Linked DNA regions of Homo sapiens. The protein of the gene in region 4 interacts with the protein of the main gene of each other region in a biochemical or structural test. Each region holds a gene or a part of one and is shown on either strand. Other genes may lie near its edges.

Evidence for each region.
Region 1: the proteins of NOTCH1 (region 4) and DDR1 form a complex in vitro, tested with the Homo sapiens proteins (one study listed by BioGRID).
Region 2: the proteins of NOTCH1 (region 4) and CASR form a complex in vitro, tested with the Homo sapiens proteins (one study listed by BioGRID).
Region 3: of the proteins of NOTCH1 (region 4) and NLK, one has a biochemical effect on the other in vitro, tested with the Homo sapiens proteins (one study listed by BioGRID).

Annotation. Positions count from the first base shown.
Region 1 is NC_000006.12:30,893,588-30,897,587, forward strand, and holds part of DDR1 (epithelial discoidin domain-containing receptor 1 isoform 2 precursor), read left to right. Parts: intron 1-918; coding exon 919-1,084; intron 1,085-1,816; coding exon 1,817-1,927; intron 1,928-3,033; coding exon 3,034-3,278; intron 3,279-3,426; coding exon 3,427-3,554; intron 3,555-3,773; coding exon of another isoform or gene 3,774-3,791; coding exon 3,792-4,000. UniProt on the Homo sapiens protein: Tyrosine kinase that functions as a cell surface receptor for fibrillar collagen and regulates cell attachment to the extracellular matrix, remodeling of the extracellular matrix, cell migration, differentiation, survival and cell proliferation.
Region 2 is NC_000003.12:122,276,737-122,281,167, forward strand, and holds part of CASR (extracellular calcium-sensing receptor isoform 2 precursor), read left to right. Parts: intron 1-4,431. UniProt on the Homo sapiens protein: G-protein-coupled receptor that senses changes in the extracellular concentration of calcium ions and plays a key role in maintaining calcium homeostasis.
Region 3 is NC_000017.11:28,191,746-28,196,881, forward strand, and holds the end of NLK (serine/threonine-protein kinase NLK), read left to right. Parts: intron 1-374; coding exon 375-468; intron 469-2,836; coding exon 2,837-2,891; 3' UTR 2,892-4,636; downstream 4,637-5,136. UniProt on the Homo sapiens protein: Serine/threonine-protein kinase that regulates a number of transcription factors with key roles in cell fate determination. Positive effector of the non-canonical Wnt signaling pathway, acting downstream of WNT5A, MAP3K7/TAK1 and HIPK2.
Region 4 is NC_000009.12:136,535,179-136,540,541, reverse strand, and holds part of NOTCH1 (neurogenic locus notch homolog protein 1 preproprotein), read left to right. Parts: intron 1-5,363. UniProt on the Homo sapiens protein: Functions as a receptor for membrane-bound ligands Jagged-1 (JAG1), Jagged-2 (JAG2) and Delta-1 (DLL1) to regulate cell-fate determination.

The sequences.
Region 1 (4,000 bases), on a different chromosome or scaffold from region 4:
GGCTGCTCCCCAGCTCTGGGTCTGCTCAGCGGAGAGGAGCAAATACCACGACCCAGAGGAGAGAGCCTGTGGAGAGGGCACCTTGACAGGGGCAGTAGACTTTGGTCCTGGGATGCAGCTGGCCCGTATCTACCCCTCAGGGAGGGCCTGGGAGAATAGATGCCCTGACCTCACTTTCTGCCCCAAACTCCTGCTGGGCTCCTCTCTGGCTAACCCAAACCAGGCCTGTTGGTGCAGTGTACACTGGTCAGCCTTGGGGCAGAAGCAGGGTAGAGACAGGCAGAGAGTGGGGTTGGAGGGGCAAAGGGAAGACGTCTGGCACACCCCAAGCCACGTCTTCCGGCTGGAGTCCAGTGGCAGTAATGTACATTAAGGTTGATGACTGGACACGGTGGCTCATGCCTGTAATCCTAGCACTTTGGGAGGCCGAGGCGGGAGGATCACCTGAGGTCAAGAGTTCGAGACCAGCCTGACCAACATGGTGAAATCCCATCTCTACTAAGAATACAAAATTAGCCAGGCATGGTGGCTGATGCCTGTAATCCCAGCTACTCAGGAGGCTGAGGCATGAATCTCTTGAACCTGGGAGGCGAAGGTTGCAGTGAGCTGAGATCATGCCATTTCACTTCAGCCTGGGCGACAAGAGCAAAATTCCATCTCAAAAAAACAAACAAACAAAAAAAAAACGGTTGATAGTTATGGACTGGGCAGATGAGGGTTAGAATCTCATTGTGGGACAGGGAAGTTACCTCCATGCTCTTGAGCTTCACTTTCTCTGCCTGTAAGATGGTGCTGATAGTATCCACAGCTGTAGGGCTCTTGTGAGGGCTGAGGGAGGGAACGCAGGGATGGACACAGCAGAGGGCCAGGCCGTGTGTGCTGAGCAACACGGGTGATGCCTCCCATCCCTATGACAAGGCTGAACGGAGGGTGTTGGAAGAGGAGCTGACGGTTCACCTCTCTGTCCCTGGGGACACTATCCTCATCAACAACCGCCCAGGTCCTAGAGAGCCACCCCCGTACCAGGAGCCCCGGCCTCGTGGGAATCCGCCCCACTCCGCTCCCTGTGTCCCCAATGGCTCTGGTAAGACCTGCCTTGTTCCAGTCGCACCTCTGTCCTCTCTGCTGTTTTCTTATTGTATCCCTTTCCCATTCTCTTTTTTTCCTGTCTTCCCCAGTTTCCACTTGTTTTCTTCTTTCTGTGCCCCTGGTTACTGTCTATATCACTCTTTGTCCCTACCATGTAGTCTCTCTCAAGAGTTCCCCATGTATTACCCATAGTCCCCCGTGGTGCTATCTTGTCTGTGTCCCACAGACATCTCTCTATCTTTGTTGTACCCTCTCATTGTGTCTCCCTGGCCCCTTTGCTTTGTATTAGACTCACCATGTTTGTTCCTTCATCTATCCTCCATCACCCATCCTTCCATCCATAGTCATACATCCTTGCATCCATCCATCAATCTTCCATCATCTGTCTTTCTATCTATATTCATAAATCTATTCATCCATCCATCCACCCACCCATATCCATCATCCATCTATCCATCTATATTCACACATCCATCTTTCCATCTGTTATCCATCCATCCAACAAAACATCTGTTTACCATCCATCCATCTATTCATACGTCCCATCTGTCCATGCATTCATTATCCAGCCAGCCGTCCGTCACTCTGCAGATCCTTGTTTTATCCTGTCTGTCTCTTAATGCAATCATCCCATCAGCCCTGGTCTTGCCCTATTCAAGGTCTCCCTGTCTGTCTAGCCTTGAGTCTCATCCCTTCCCCGTGTTTCCCCTCCTCCTTCTCCCGACAGCGTTGCTGCTCTCCAATCCAGCCTACCGCCTCCTTCTGGCCACTTACGCCCGTCCCCCTCGAGGCCCGGGCCCCCCCACACCCGCCTGGGCCAAACCCACCAACACCCAGGGTAAGCCCCTCTGCCCCTGGGCTCCGCCAGGCTCCCCATACCTCTACTGGGGCAGGGAAAAGCCCTCACACCTTGCACTTCCTCCTCTCCCCACTGTGGCCTATTCTGCTCTCCTGAGCTCCCAAGGAGGAAGCTCTTGTGCCCTTAGCTCATCTCTGCTGCTGCTTGCTCTTTTTTAAGGTCCCCCCCTTGAGCTGAGGAGTAGAAAGCTTACTGGTCCCCAGCTCTTCTCCCTCCTCCTCTTCCACGCCATCTCTTCAGCTCTCCAGAGCTAGACAGGAGGTTGCTGTGGTGGCCCCAGACTATAGTAACTCCTCCTTTATTCTCCACTCTCTCTAGAGCTGCGAGGAGGAGGGCTCTCACCCCGGGCGCTTGCCCTTTCCCTCACATGTGTCCTCTCTCTGCAGTCCCAGAGGTGAAGGCTCATGCCCCAACCCTTTCCATCTGCCCCTCTTCTCCTCAGTGTTGCCTTCTCATTGTGGCCCCTTCCCCAGGGCTAAGAGGGGACAGCTCTGCTTCCTCTCCTGTCTGTAGACAACTTGTGTTGGGGCTGTGAGCAGCTGTTACCCTCCCTCCTCTCTGTGTGCCTCTGTCTCTGCTTGTTGTTGAGCTTGGTGTGTTGGGTTGAAAGGGTTGGGAGGGCTTGGCCCCAGGGGGAGCCAGGCTGAAAGCCACGGGAGAGCAGCTAAGTGAAGGGGAGGGAGCTGTGGTGAACGGGACAAGGGTTTGGAAGGTGGAGGGTGCCTGGATGCTGGGACCATCCTGAGGCGGGAGAATTCCTGGGGAGGAATTCTTCTTCCAGCCAAGATTTATCTCACAGTCTCTTGAGAGACCCTAGGGAGGCCCTAAAAGAGTAAGACTTTATGACAGTTTTGCTCAACCATATTCATTGCCTTGAAAAGCTCTGGAATAGCTAACTCTCGTCCCATGCCAGTGTCTTCCTGGTTTGAGGTTGGCGCATGGAATACTGGGAAGATACAGCATAGACCCAGTCTCTCACTCAACCGGGAGACACAGGGCCCTCCGGGAGGCTGAGGTGTGGGGAACTATAGCTCTTGGGCTGTTCCTGATGCCTCGTCCTGTCTTCTTTCCCCTCACCCCTGCAGCCTACAGTGGGGACTATATGGAGCCTGAGAAGCCAGGCGCCCCGCTTCTGCCCCCACCTCCCCAGAACAGCGTCCCCCATTATGCCGAGGCTGACATTGTTACCCTGCAGGGCGTCACCGGGGGCAACACCTATGCTGTGCCTGCACTGCCCCCAGGGGCAGTCGGGGATGGGCCCCCCAGAGTGGATTTCCCTCGATCTCGACTCCGCTTCAAGGAGAAGCTTGGCGAGGGCCAGTTTGGGGAGGTAAGGAGGGTGCCTACCCAGTGTCTGGCCCTATTGTGTGCTCTGATGCCATGCCTGCGCATCCCCCTAGCCAGGAACCTTAGTCATTTGTAACCGTGTTAATCCGTTTGACCCTGTGACCGCCTAGCAAACGAACTTCTTTCTCCAGGTGCACCTGTGTGAGGTCGACAGCCCTCAAGATCTGGTTAGTCTTGATTTCCCCCTTAATGTGCGTAAGGGACACCCTTTGCTGGTAGCTGTCAAGATCTTACGGCCAGATGCCACCAAGAATGCCAGGTGAGGACCAGGGATGGCATCTGGAAGAAGGGAGGGGAGGCCGTGAAGAGTGGGGAGCCATCTAGAGAGAACAATGGCAGAGCCCAACAGAGGGGTGGCATCTCTGGGAGGGGATTTACATGTACGCTGGGGGTGGGGACGCCTGGTCTGCCTGAGGTGGGGCAGGGGGGTGGGGGCGCGGGGGAAGGTGCAGGCCGCCCACTCGGCATTCCTCTTCAGCTTCTCCTTGTTCTCCAGGAATGATTTCCTGAAAGAGGTGAAGATCATGTCGAGGCTCAAGGACCCAAACATCATTCGGCTGCTGGGCGTGTGTGTGCAGGACGACCCCCTCTGCATGATTACTGACTACATGGAGAACGGCGACCTCAACCAGTTCCTCAGTGCCCACCAGCTGGAGGACAAGGCAGCCGAGGGGGCCCCTGGGGACGGGCAGGCTGCGCAGGGGC
Region 2 (4,431 bases), on a different chromosome or scaffold from region 4:
CTGTAACAAAGAGGAGGATGCTTGTGTGTCTGAGTATCACTGCAGCTAGAAGCCTGTTAATAACCAGAAGCCCACCCCTCAGTCAATTTGCACTTGAGGAAGAGAAACGTGATACACTGGAATGATGACCATTCTATGATGTTTGTGTCCTAGAATATAGCAGGCTGCTAAGAATCCAGGTCCTCTGTAAGAACACAGATCCTAGACAGGGCATCCTCTTAACTCTCCCAGGAAGCCTGGATAAGACCCACCACATTTCTATTTGCATTTGCCTTTTTTATTATCACCTTTGAGCATCTTGGACCACTTTTCTTTTTTTTTTTTTTTTTTGAGATGGGGTCTGGCTCTGTTGCCTAGGCTGGAGTGCAGTGGCACAATCTCGGCTCGCTGAAGCCTCTGCCTCCCAGGTTCAAGCAATTCTCCCACCTCACCCTCCCAAGTAGCTGGAATTACAGGCGCACCACCACACCCAGCTAATTGTTGTATTTTTAGTAGAGACGGGGTTTCACCATGTTGGCCAGGCTGGTCACGAACTCCTGACCTCAGGTGATCCACCCTCCTCAGCCTCCCAGAGTGCTCAGATGACAGACGTGAGCCACCATGCCCAGCCATCTTGGACCACTTTTTATAACATAACCAAAGACTCGCTTCGTCTTCTTATCAAATGCTTCTTAGGTTGACAGGTTCCTGATGAGATGCTACAACTTCACTGTTACCCAGTATGTAGATGGATTACCACTGGGAAGGTCTCCCATAGACAGTGAATCTCATCCACAGTGTGCCGTTTTTAATAGCTTACACCCCAGAGGGTGGGTTCTTAATTATAAATATGTCATGACTTTTCCAGATGGAGATTTGGGGGTTCCAGATGTTATATTCCTCTGTCCACTAATTATACCTTTGTCTAATTTATCACGTATTTTCACTGACTGGAGTCTAAATTGATCAGCTATACTGCCACCTGTTTACCCCTGTTGGATCATCCAGTTTATCTTTCACCCCCATTAATGCATAGAATTGAATTCTCTAATGGCACATGTCTCTCCACTGCAGCAGGGAGCTATCTCCTGTACAGTTCTCCATAGCCCTAACTGTCCTCTCCCAGGCTATGTACATCATGGGCTTAAACATTGATAGATGAATAACACAGGGAATTCTCATTAATTCAGTCACTTATGTTCTTGGAATAGTTGACACAGTTATAAGTTAAATCTAATTTTTTTCCATAGAAATATTACCTCAAACGTAGCACACAATGGATACTCAACAAATCTTAGGATCTACTCTATTATTTTCTGTGCTGTTGTGGAAATGACCACAAAAATACCACCTATATTTAACTATAAATTATATATTAGTAACTTCCCTATGTATTTCACAAAGTTGTTATTGAGATCAAATGAGATCAAGGATGAAAAGCGTATGATAAACTGAATCATACTACTAATATATAAATGCAAAGTATTAATATGGCATTATACTTAACTGATGTTCTCAATTTTCTTACAAATGTAGCACTAAATTTAGAGCTAGATAGATCTTTAAAGATCCTTGTATCCAAGCTTCCAATTTGAAGTTGATGACACTGAGGTTTTAGGATGCAAAGGTGACTTCTCAGGCCAAACAGATGGTCAGTATAAAAGCTGAGACTAGACCCCAAGGGCCCTAACTTAGACCTCAGTGCTCCATTCCCTACACTGTGCTGCCAATAATTCTTTCCTTGTTTTGCTACAACAAATAAGAAGTAAAAGAGACACCTTAATTAGGGTCTTGGAATTCAGATGAGCTTCCTTGGCCAGAATTGGACAGGCATCTTTAATAAGACTGTTGAGGAGGCTTGGAGATACTTGACTGCTTTTTGGAAAAATGGATCTTTCCGGTGGCTACCTCAGCCCACTCCTGTGGTGATAGGATTTCTCTTTAGCTCATGGTTGCTGAAGGATGCAGTAAGCAGACCCAGATGGAGACATTCTTCTAAGCCTTGACTGGTATAAAGCAGAGTTTGGTGTAGTGAAAAGTACAGACTTTGAAGACTGACCTGAGCGCGAATCTCAGCTCTCCAGTCAAGCCATTGTGTGACCTTCAGCCTGTTCCTTAACCATTAAGAAGAAGAGAAAAAGAGGCAAGGCAGACATTCCTATAGGCCCTCGTTATTTATACTCCTCTTTTTCTTTAAAAATAGAACTCTATTTTAGCTAGACACATGACTACCCAGATTCAAGATGACATTTTTCAGCCTTCATTTCTACTAAGTGCGTCCCCATGACTAAATCCTAGAGAATGGGATGTAAGTGGCAGTGTTGTGGGATGGCTTCTGGGAACCTTCTTTAAGAAAGTGCTTGCAAGTATCCTTTGCTCTCTTCTTCATCCCTTCCTCTATCTTGCCTCCTGGAAACCAAATGCCACTATCAAGGACTATGAGGCAAAGACAAACATGTCAGAACCACCAGGTAGAAAGAGTCTAGGTGTCCAACATTATGGAGTGCTATATCACTCTAGACCACATCCCTAGACATTTATATGAGAGAGAAATACAGTTCAGTCTTGTTGGGAGTTATTATTTTGAGATTTTTGGCACTCACAGCCTAGCAGAAACCAAGAAGGAAAGCTACTAAATTTATTTTGTGATGATAATATAATCTTGATACCAAAAACAGATAGAACAATACAAGCAAAGACAATTATAGGACAATATTGTTTGTATACGTAGATGCTCAAATCCTAAATAAAATATCACCAAACAGACCAGCAATGTATAAAATAAACATCATCTGCTAGTAGAGTTAGTGGTGAATGTACAGGAACGTAATGATAGCCAAACTTTACAAAGTTCATAAATGTAGCTTATTACATTAGCAGAATAAAAGATAAAAGTTCTGCAATGTCAGTAGACACAGAAAAAGTATCTATTAACATTTAACACCTCTCAGGTTAAAAACAAAAATTTTTAACCTCTCAGGTTTTAACCTCTCAGGTTAAAAACAAAAATTTCATTAATCTAGGAATAGAAGGGAACCTCACTTTACCTTGATAAAGGATACAGCAACCATCATTCTTTTTTCATTGTATTTCTTTTAAGTTCTGGGGTACATGTGCAGGATGTGCAGGTTTATTACATAGGTAAATGTGTGCCATGGTAGTTTGCTGCACCTGTCAACCCATCACCTGGGTATTAAACCCAGCATGCACTAGCTCTTTTCCCTAATGCTCTCCACCCCACTACCCTTTCCCAACAGGCCCCAGTGTTGTTCTCCACCCTGTGTCCATGTGTTCCCATTGTTCAGCTCCCACTTATAAGTGGGAACATGGGGTGTTTGGTTTTCTGTTCCTGCAAAACGTAATTCATCACATAAACAGAACTAAAAACAAAAACCACATGACTATCTCAATAGACACAGAAAAGGCCTTCGATAAAATTCAACATCCCTTCATGTTAAAAACTCTAAATAAACTAGGTGTTGAAGGAACATACCTCGAAATAATAAAAGCCATTTATGACAAACCCACAGCCAATATCATACTGAAAAGGCAAAAGCTGGACGCATTCCCCTTGAAAACTGGCACAAGGATGCCCGCTCTCACCACTCTTATTCAACATAATATTGGAAGTTCTGGCCAGGGCAATCAGGCAAGAGAAAGAAATAAAGGGTATTCAAATAGGAAGAGAGGAAGCAACCATCATTCTTTAATGGGGAAAATTTAGAAGCATTCCTAGTGTGGGTTTGGAAAACAGGGCCTTTAGCTTTCATTGAGTGATCAAATGGGTTGGCAACTCAAGGACTGAGAGCACATCTCTGAGGATACCTTGTCACCATAGTTGAAGATGATGATGTGAGTTGTCCTTTTCCCTCCCCTCCCCTTCCCTTCCCTGGGTCATGAGAGTCTTGGCAATCATCAGGTCCATTACTGCCTTTCCATTCCTCATTCATTAGAAGATAATGTCAATCATCTTCTGTTCAAGTTTTTTTTAACTCCTTTGTCAAGCCAGTCATTTCTGCTAGAAACAACGACAGCTACTTTACTGCTTTCTGTGTTTGTAAGACATCTTACAAAGTAGTAGGTAGAGGGGAGACCCATTAAATAGACATTATGGAAATAGTAAAAGCCCTACTATGTATTAAGCATTACTCCAGGCTTTGTACCTGGGGTTACAAAGATGAGTGAGAAGTGCTCTCTACCTCTAAGATACATATGCTGTTGCAAAACGGACTTCATTCTTATGATACATTTCTTGTCTTTGAAACATATACATTGTTAGATAGTAAATGACTAATAAATTCCTAGAATGAATAATCAATTAGCTGGTGCAAAGAATGAGATAGAAGCAGGACTTCTTGAAATGGTGAAGCAATGATAAAATTGAACAAAACTGGACAAAAACCACTGAAGAACCTGGAAGTTAACCAGAAGCACACAACAAAAGGTGAAGGG
Region 3 (5,136 bases), on a different chromosome or scaffold from region 4:
GAAACTATACACCTAGATACCAACTGAGGTCTTTAAGTGATCTTCAAAAAGGCAATAATTGCCAGCAACTTAGAAGAGTTCACCCATAATGCCAAACCTGTGGAGTCTCTCTCAAATTTATAGGCCATTTTACTCTTCCCACTGATGGGGTTGCAGTCTGTGTAATGCCACCAGTAGGTTTCTTATATTTAGCAACAGCTGTCATTTTAGTTTTAGGAAGTTCAGCTGAATTCTGCTTGATAGATGATGTGTGTGTTTGATTTAACTAAACCAGTAGGCAGTGCTTTTCAGATGCTGGCTAGAGTTCGCTGAGAATTCACTGCTCCCGGGCTTGCAAATTGTCATGGATTGTATGATGTTTGTTTTCTCCACAGAAATTATTCATCAGTTCATTTTGGAACAGCAGAAAGGAAACAGAGTGCCTCTCTGCATCAACCCTCAGTCTGCTGCTTTTAAGAGCTTTATTAGGTAACTATATGTATGTAATTCAACATTCTTGTTAGAATTAAAAGGATGCCAGTGTTACTTCATTATTCAGCATATTTGTTTTTATTTAGATAACATAGATAAAAGGTGCAACAGAAAGTTTCTGTTATGAGGTTTGGCTTTAGTCAAAAGTGTATTAAAACTGTAAGCATCTGGGCTGGGCGCGGTAGCTCATGCCTGTAATCCCAGCACTTTGGGAAGCCAAGGCAGACAGATCACCTGAGGTCTGGAGTTCAAGACCAGCCTGACTAACATGGAGAAACCTTGTTTCTTCTAAAAATACAAAATTAGCCAGGCATGGTGGTGCATGCCTGTAACCCCAGCTACTTGGGAGGCTGAGGCAGGAGAATCACTTGAACCCGGGAGGCAGAGGTTGCGGTGAGCCGAGATCGCACCATTGCACTCCAGCCTAGGCAACAAGAGCGAAACTCCATCTCAAAAAAAAAAACAAAAAACTGTAAGCATCACATTTTACACTGGTGCCAGTTCACTGCGGTTGCTTTGGCAATTTTTTCCCCGGATGACCATTGTGCTGCCTCATCACATATATGGCAGTCCTGCTGCAGCATTAGTATGGTGGCCACCTGTCCTGGAGTTAGACGTGGTCATCTCAGTTCCCACTACCATTCTCACTCCCTAGTAATAACTGCAAGCAAGAAAATAATTTTTTTGTGTGTAGGTGGACTGCTGGTGTAGCCTATTTAGAGGAGAAGTCAAAAGGCATATGGTAGAGCTATGAACCTACATTGGAAGTTACCAGGCTTCATTCTCCTTGTCTGTCTGTCCTTTCCTTCTCTTGATTTCTTTTTCCTTAACTCCTTATATATTGATCAGGGTCTAATCGGGAGAAATAAACCACTTCCCTAGAATACAAACGGGGAAAATTCAGTAATAAGAACTGTTAACTAGGAAAGATGATCAACTGCTAAAAGGCATAAAAGAGGATTCTGAAGGCTGCTGAAGTAGCAAATGCAGAAAGCAGCCACTCCCTGTAGACTGAGGGAGAGTAAACAAGAAAGGAATTAAGAATTTAGAAGAGGTTCCTCATGTAAGGACCTCTTTGGAGAGGGTATGGCTGCCACAGGAACTGGAACACACAGCACGAGGGTGGTGCAGAAGAGGAAGTGTGCCAGAAGGTGTGGCCAGAACTGGTCCATCAAAGACTGCCTGCCAGGAGAGTTCGGGTGGACCAAAGCTGAGCCTTCCACATGACCAAAAACAGGCACAACAAACCAAGGAAGGGAGACTGCTTCCTGATGCTACAGCCTTGCAAATGCCCTTCCAGCACCCTCTGTTGACAAAAGCTAACATTAAGCTAGGTGGCAAAGGGGAACCATGAACAGGGTCTGGCTCCAGTATCACAAAGCAGGACAAAGGGTGGATTCGGATATGAGTGGTCACACAGTCTCTATCTTCCCCGCTGCCTTTCTCCTCTCCTTTTTCTCTCTTCCTGCTGCCCTTTCCCTTTAATCATATTAAAGTTGGTTGGATTTGTTGGACCACAGTCAAGATTTTATGCTTAAAATTTGCAAAATCAGGTGACTTTCATTTCTTCCATGTATTTTTCTATTGGAAGAAGGAATTAAGTTGCACTTTTACTTATCTGTGGTTTTAAATTACTTTGTTTTACTATTTTCCCCTAAGAGTCAGTGACCCAGTCAGTTAGGCAGTTTAGCAGCTTAGGTGCAAATGATCCTGGGCCTTGGGGAAACAAGGGGTTACACTTTTCCCTCTCAAGTTTATAATCTAATTAGCAATCTTAGACATAGGAAAAAGCCAATAACAGATCTAGATCACCAATGCTAAATGATTACCTATACTTCTCCATTAATACTTGATAAAAGAATGCTTATAAGGCCCATTCAAAATAGGCCACTGTATTTTGAGAGGCTACTTTTAAATGGATGATTCTACATCCCTTAAGGTTATTTTCCTGATTGATTATTGAAATTATTACTTGTAATACCTACATTTACTTTACACTTTGAAGTAGGCACTGTGGAAAATACTTCACATCTATTATCATTTATTCATCCCAGTATCCTATGAGGTAAACAGCATTATTTCTTTCCAAATGAGAAGAGATTAAGGCACTTGCTCAGGGCCATACAACTAGTAAATGACATGTGGTTTTCAAGCCTACATATTAGCCACTATACCAGATTGCCTCTCCATAGATAACAGGTCCATAAACAAGCAACTTAGAATAAATTCAACTTCAAAGAAACAAATAAAAATCCAGAAGTGGAATTAATTTTTTCAGAGGAAGAGAGGAAAACAGGAAGTAGTGAATTACCCTTTTGTCCATTGTGACATTACAACTAATTTCTCCATCTCTGTTTTCTTCCAGTTCCACTGTTGCTCAGCCATCTGAGATGCCCCCATCTCCTCTGGTGTGGGAGTGATGGTGGAAGATAATGTACTACTGAAGATGTAATGTAGCTTTCCACTGGAGTCTGGGATTTGCAATTCTGGAGGTTAATCATGCTTGTACTGTAATTTTACTAATGAAGTTTTAAATTAACAACCACTACTTGTATGATATGAATAATATTTAGAAATGTTACTAGACTTTTAATCTTGTAAAGTGGTTGTGCTTTTAGAAGAAAAATATTTTACCCAGAGTTGCACATGTTTTATGAATTTAGTGCAGCTGTTATGGCTCACCTCAGAACAAAAGAGAATTGAACCAAATTTGGGAGTTTGGGGTTTTATGTTTTGTTTTTCTTTTCTAAAATGAAGTGAGATTGTTCACACACACACACACACACACACACACACACAAACACAAAGGACAGTCATACATTTTGATATTTGAGCCATTCCTAAAGATTTGGGGTTTTCTAAAACTAAAGAATCTAGGAACCTTGCCTGCGACCAATCATGGAGCCACGTGAGCTGATCGTGGCTGCACCTGGGGGGAGGGTAGGGAGGAGGGGCATGCCACCTAATGATCAAGCCCTATAATTAGCTTCTCATTAGAGCCGTGATGGTGATGTGTGCTGTCTAAAATCCAATGTTGTGGGTAGAGAGAATGAGTTTGTGACTAGGAGAGACTAAACTTTTGTTTTCCTTACCCAGTATAAATATATATATATATATTTAATCTATTTTTATTAGAAGTTTTTCTGCTCTTTCTTACATAAAAGAACCCCAAGCATGCATCTTTCATGTGTGTAAATAATTCATTTCTGGGCTAATTTCAAAAGAATCCCAATATTGCTGTATAGAAAGAGAACTAGCTTGCACATTTTAGGTCTGTGAAATTTTGTGAGACTTTTCCTGCACTGGACAGTAAAAAAATAATAAAAGACAAAAACAAATTTAAAAAAAAATTTAAGCCACAAAAAAAGGCACATAGGGAATTATGTCAAATGTGTTTGTGTCCTTAGGCAAAGCTGTGGGAGTCTTGAAATGTCACAGTAGTAAATAACTTATTACTTTTTGACAAGTTCTTTTTTTCTGTTGGAACACTGAATTCTTCTGTGCATATGTACATATGAATACAAATCGAAGGCCTCTACCTCCTGGAGTTATACAACTTGGCTTGTTTACCTCCACATGCTGATGATGACTATTTTTTTTTTTTGAGTTCAGTGTGGAGACTTGAAACTTGAATGTCCCTTCCAACTTTTATATTAAAAATAAAAAGACAAGAAAATTGAAGATCATTTTTCACCTGTACAAGGAATACTAATGGATCGTCTTAAAATTGGTCTAGGAAAAAACCTTGGTGTGTGTTATGGACAATTAACTGTTAAAGTTATTGTAAGTTATCTGTATTTAGCAGAGTATTTTCAACTTGAGTGATCTGAGCTGAATTTGAAGACTATTAATAAGTTATGTTTGGAAGTTTTAACTTCAATGAAGTAATTATTTGCTGTGAAAGAAACAAACATTGAATTACTAAACAAAGATGGTGCAATATCTTTGTTTTTTTTTTATGAGGCTCCTGAGAATCAACCCAACTGAAGCATTTCAATTCACTTGAATGAGAAACGTGTTTAGTATCAAAAGAGCCCAAGAAGACACTGGTGTGAAAGGTACAATCTCAGAGGTTGGTCAATTACCGTGGCACACTTTCTGGTCACTTTGTACAATGTAGATTTGAAGTACAGTGGTGAAAACATTAAATGTGACATTTGAAAAAGATGTGTCATCTGTTTTATTTCAGTTTCTTTCCTTTGTTTTCTCTTCAGTACAGCTCGTATCCTGACTTTGCAAAGTTTTGAGACACTTCCTATTTATATTTCCACTTTGATCTTTGAGGAAATTGGTTGTTTTTAAAAATCTTCTCAAAAACTTTAGATTGACAAAAACATATTGAAAATTTAGTTAAATCAATATCAAAGATGTGATTTAAATATACACAATAGAGAAGTCTTTTTAGACCTTGGAGTCTCTAATCCAGTGGTTTTCAAACTTTTTTTTCTTTGAAGCAATATCTTGGAGTCCAATATATTAAATACATAAAAGTAGATTGCTCTGTATGAAGCAGACTGGTAAAGGGACTTGACACCTCCCTCCTCTTCACTTCTGCCTCCTGCCTCTAGCAGCCCAAAGGTACTTTCAGCTAAGGAAGAAGTCCCAGCCCAGTGGTGGTGTAATCAAGGCCTGAAACCAGACTGCCTGACTTCAAAATACTTTCCC
Region 4 (5,363 bases):
TCTTCCCCGCCTTCTCCCCGTTGGCTGACAGTGCTGGTTTCCAGAGCCTCCTTCCTGAATGTTTAATTGATTGACGAGTGAATTCAGAGAATCCTAAAGGTGCTGCCTGGTGGGCTGGGCCTGGCACTGCCTGGGGAGGGACTTGCCGGCTCTGGGGAAGTCCATCTCCCAGGATGGCTCCAGCTCCGGGGAAGTCCATCTCCCAGGGTGGCTCCAGTTCACAGACACGTTTGAGCGCCTGCTGTGTGCTGCGTTCTGCTCCAGGCCAGGCCCCCGGTGGGGACAGGGCAGACATGGCCCCTGCTCCTGTGGAGTTCACTTCCCAGCAAGGCGTGAGAGAGGCACCTAGCTCACATGTGGGACATGTTGGGGGTGTGCCGGCCCGGTGGTGGCCTGGCATAGCTCCCGGCAGCCCCGTAAAGCTGTCTGGATCAGGCACCGATAAGTGAGAAGAAGAGACCCAGAGAAGTCGCCATCAGCCCCAGGGTCACACAGCAGTGGCAGAATTCCTACTAGCCCTGCCCCTCTCCTTCTCCCAAGCGAATGTCCCTAAACACAGCCCCAGCCAGCCTGAGCTGCCCCGTCATTTCCCGACTACAAGCGGACTGGGGGCGTGGCTTCCCCTTAAAAGAAGAGGAAGGAGGCTCAGGCGGGAAGTGACTTGGCCCTGCAGCCGGCCTGGGAGGCTGGGGAGGGACGGGGTAGCTCCTGTCACCCGGTCTGGCTCTTTCCATTGAGTCACCTGCCTCGTCTTGGGCGTGGCCAGGGGAGGAACAGGTTGATTCTCCTCCTCATGCTGAGCTGAGCGGAAAGGCCTGTGACAGGACCTCCTGTTTATGCAGAACCTGGTCTTCAAGGGCGCCAGGGTTAGAAAAACATGTTTAAAAACATGCAGCATCCGAGGTGGGCAGATCACCTGAGGTCAGGAGTTCAAGACCAGCCTGGCCAACATGGCGAAACCCCCGTCTCTACTAAAAATACAAAAATTACCCAGGCGCAGTGGCGTGTGCCTGTAATCCCAGCTACTTGGGAAGCTGAGGCAGGAGGATCCTTTGAACCCAGGAGACGGAGGCTGCAGTGAGCTGAGATCGTGCCACTGCACTCCAGCCTGGGTGACAAAGTGAGACTCTGTCTCAAAAAAACAAAAAACAACAAAAAAAACCCCACACAGTGTCAAATAGAAAGTCTCACCTACTCAGACTGGGGAGACATCAGGAACAGGAAGGCCTGGGGCGGAGACTGGGGTGGGAGCCTGGAGTGCTCTGAAGGAAGCTGGCTCCTTGGGGCAGGCCCTGCCTCTGAACAGCAGCCAACATGTTTTCCATTGAAAAGAATAATAATAGAAAAAGAGAGAGGGAGAAAGAAAACAGCAACCCTGGCAGGAAGAGGGTAGGGCAGGGCAGACAGTGCACCAGGGGAAGTGCTTCCACAGGGCAGAGCTGGGTGCGGGGACCCCCAGATGCGGGCGGCAAACTGGAGACCCCACAGGAGCCGGGACTGGCTTCATTCCTCATTCCCTGCACCTGTGATGGGCAGCAGCGGCCACCGGTGCCCACTGGGCAGTTCCAGGCCGGGCCGAGGGACTGCACCCTTTTGCTGTGGGGAGGGGACCTTTCCTGTTTCATGTCTCGTCTATAAATAGTGAAAGGATGTGGCTTTGCAGAATCGATTGGGCGTCTAGCTTGCCTTCCTCAATAATGCAGCGATGACAGCTCCACACTCAGGACGCCGCTGTTACCCAGCCTCGTAAAAGCCCTGGCAGACGGCCGCCCACCCTCCAGGTGTGCCAGTGCAGTTTTCATCCCCAGCGCACAGGTGGGAAAGCTGTGGCTGCGAGGGCGTGGGGATCTGAGGCAGGCTGGCGTCAGCTTTCACCTTCATGTGCAGGCATATCCAGAACTTTCCGGATCTTTCCCCGGGCTGAGGAGGAAATACCAGCAGCTTTAACGAGCGGCTGGCTTTGGGGCATCACACCTGTGGGCCGGGCTGCGTTTGACGGCCTCGAGTTTCCCAGGCAGCGCTGGCGCTTTCTCCTGTGGGGCCCGGAGCTCCGAGGGGCTGTGAAGCAGGGCTGGCTCTGATTTGCTGTGCTCCCCACACTGTCCCCTCCCTGGGCCTCAGTTTCCCCATCTGTATGTGATTCCCCTTCCAACTACAGCCAGCGGGACCCTGGGGCGGGCTGAAGGCGTGGTGGTGGCTGTGGGCCCTGCGGCGAGGCCTGCGCTGGGCTCGGTGGTCGCCCCAGCTGGGGAAGGGGCAGTGGCTGCAGGGGTGGGAGGGTGGAGGGAAGCCCTTTTCCAAAGTTGCCTGGTTGGGTTCTCCTTGTGGCCCTGCCCCACCCCACCCTGCTCCCTGGGAGCAAAGGGAGCTAAGGACTGGTTTGGGGATGGATATGTATATGGAGGGATTCTGGGTGATGACTTATTCATATTACAAAATTTGCCTTTTTTTGTTTGTTTTTTGAGATGGAGTCTTGCTTTGTCACCCAGACTGGATTAGAGTGACGCAGTCTTGGCTCACTGTAACCTCTGCCTCCCAGATTCACGCGATGCTCCTGAGTAGCTGGGACTACAGGCACATACCACCACTCCCAGCTAATTTTTGTATTCTTAGTAGGGGCAGGGTTTCACCATATTGGTCAGGCTGGTCTCAAACTCCTAACCTCAGGTGATCCACCTGCCTTGGCCTCTCAAAGTGCTGGGATTACAGGCGTGAGCCACTGTGCATGGCCACTTTTTTGTTTTTTGAGATGGGGTCTCACCCTGTCACACAGGCTGGAGTGAAGTGGTGGGATCACGGCTGACTGCAGCCTCAAACTCCTGGGCTCAAGCGATCCTCCTGCCTCCGCCTCCAGAGTAGCTGGGACCACAGGTGTGCACCACCATGCCTAGCTAATTTTAAATTTTTTTGCAGAAGCGGGGTCTTGCTATGTTGTCCAGGCTGAAAATGTGACTTTTGAACTAAAGCATGCTGTTGCTTGACATCTAGTCCATTCACAAGTTCATTCAACCACTATCTAGTTCCGGGACTTTCTCACTGCACAAAACAGAAACTGTACCCAAATACTGTCACTCTGCCCTGACTGCCCCAGCCCCTGGCAACCACTAACCCGCTTTCTGCCTCTGAATTCGCCTCTTCTGGACGTTGCCTATGAATGGAATTGTGCCATAGGTGGTCTTTTGCCCCTGGCTTCTTTCACTGAGCGTGATGTGTTTAAGGTTCATCCATGTCACGCGTGGACTAGAACTGCATTCTTCTGAGGACTACATTTTAGCCTCCAGAAGCATCAGGGACTGGCCAGAGGTGGACCCCAGCATCCCAGCTCCCAGACAGTCCAGAGGAGGCAGGTGTTGGGAGGGCGTCCGGGGTGGCTTCCTGGAAGAGATGGCGCTCACTCTGGGCCGGTGCAGCCACCCGACAGCCACAGAGCCCCCTAGAGGGAGTCCTGGCATATTCCCAGGTGAACCTGTAGGATGGACTGGCGTGCCCGCGGCCCCTGTCCTGCTCAGGACTCCGAGACAGGCTCACAACCTGTCCCTGGGCCTCACTCATGCCAGCCGCCAAGCTGTTCAGCATCCCTTAGCCCCCAGGAGGCACACAGTGGGGCCGCGGTCACTGAGCGTCCACACGCCTGGTGCTGTAAGAATGCAAAGTAGAGGGTCTTTATTGAGCATCTACTACATGCTGAACCCTGGGGTATGGGTGGGCACGGCAGATGCAGGCCCCCCTGGGCAGGGGAGGAGCATGCCCCTTAAGAACCAGGCCACAGGATGGACGGGCTTGGCCACAAGCTAGGGGTAGTCACTGCAGCCTTCATGGCCTCCTGTGTGCAAAGTCAGTGCTGTGGGACCCCATCTGGGTGCACCTGCTGTGGCTTTCAAGTGAGGCCCACCACGGAGCAGCTTCCACGCTGGCTGGGACAGGGTCAGCGGCAGGGAGCTCCAGACCAAAGGAGCGGCGGTGGCTGGGGCAGCGGGGGGCAGTGAGGCTTTGGACACATCCATGGGGCGGGCAGGCATCTCAGCCCCCACCCGCCCAGTCTGCCTGCTCCGGGGCCTTCCCTTCCCTGGACAGAGCTCTGTGTGATTGGCTCCAGGCTGCTTCTCCCCCTGGACCCTCAGGGTCAGCTTAGAGTGACTGGCTATGCCCTGGCCTAGATCCAGGCCCGTGTGACAGGAGAGAGCTAGGAACCTGGCCCCTCACTCTGAGACACAGATGGTGTCCTCTCCAAGTTGCCCTTGGGACGGGGAAGCGCCATGTCCCCTGCAGGGCACCAGGCCAGCCAGTGGCCCTTGACAGCGAGGCCCTGTCTGCAGGCAGCTGGGGGACTTCTCCCTGTCGGGAGGATGCGTGCGTGTTAGCATCGGGGTGCCTGGTTGCCCCAGGGGTGGTGCAGGGCGGTTATAGGCGGTCCTAGCATTTTGGGGTTGCTTTCAGTGTATCTCCGAGACCTGTGGAATTCTGGGAGGAGAAACTCCCCAGCAGTGTCCTCAGTGCGCCCCCCTACCCTGTACCCGTTGCTCCTGGGAGGGATCCTGAGTGCTCCCCCCCACCCACCATGCACCCATTGCCCCAGGAGGGATCCTGAGTGCTCCCCTCTCCACCCACCCTGCACTCATTGCCCCGGGAGGGATCCTGAGTGCTCCCCCCTCCACCCACTCCCACCCTGCACCCATTGCCCCTGGGAGGGATCCTGAGTGATCCCCCCTCCACCCACCCTGCACCCATTGCCCCTGGGAGGGATCCTGAGTGCTCCCCTCTCCACCCACCCTGCACTCATTGCCCCGGGAGGGATCCTGAGTGCTCCCCCCTCCACCCACTCCCACCCTGCACCCATTGCCCCTGGGAGGGATCCTGAGTGCTCCCCCCGACCCACCCTGCACCCATTGCCCCAGGAGGGATCCTGAGTGCTCCCCTCTCCACCCACCCTGCACCCATTGCCCCTGGGAGGGATCCTGAGTGCTCCCCCCTCCACCCACCATGCACCCATTGCCCCGGGAGGGATCCTGAGTGCTCCCCCCTCCACCCACTCCCACCCTGCACCCATTGCCCCTGGGAGGGATCCTGAGTGCTCCCCGCCTACCCTGCACCCATTGCCCCTGGGAGGGAGACTTCTGTAGAGGCCTCACCTCTGAACCCCCCACTCACAGGCTCAGGGGCCCAGGGCTGGGGGCGTCCTGCCGTCTACACTCCAGATTGAGCCCGCACGGTTAAACAGGGCCCTCTCCGCACGCCCTGCCTAATGCAAAGCGGTGGCTTCGGGTGGGTCCCCAAGGGGCCTTGTGAACCCTGGGGGCCTGGCCCCTCCCACCTGGCTGCACCCGCTGGGCGGGAGATCCCATCCTCCGAGTCCTCAGCCCCTC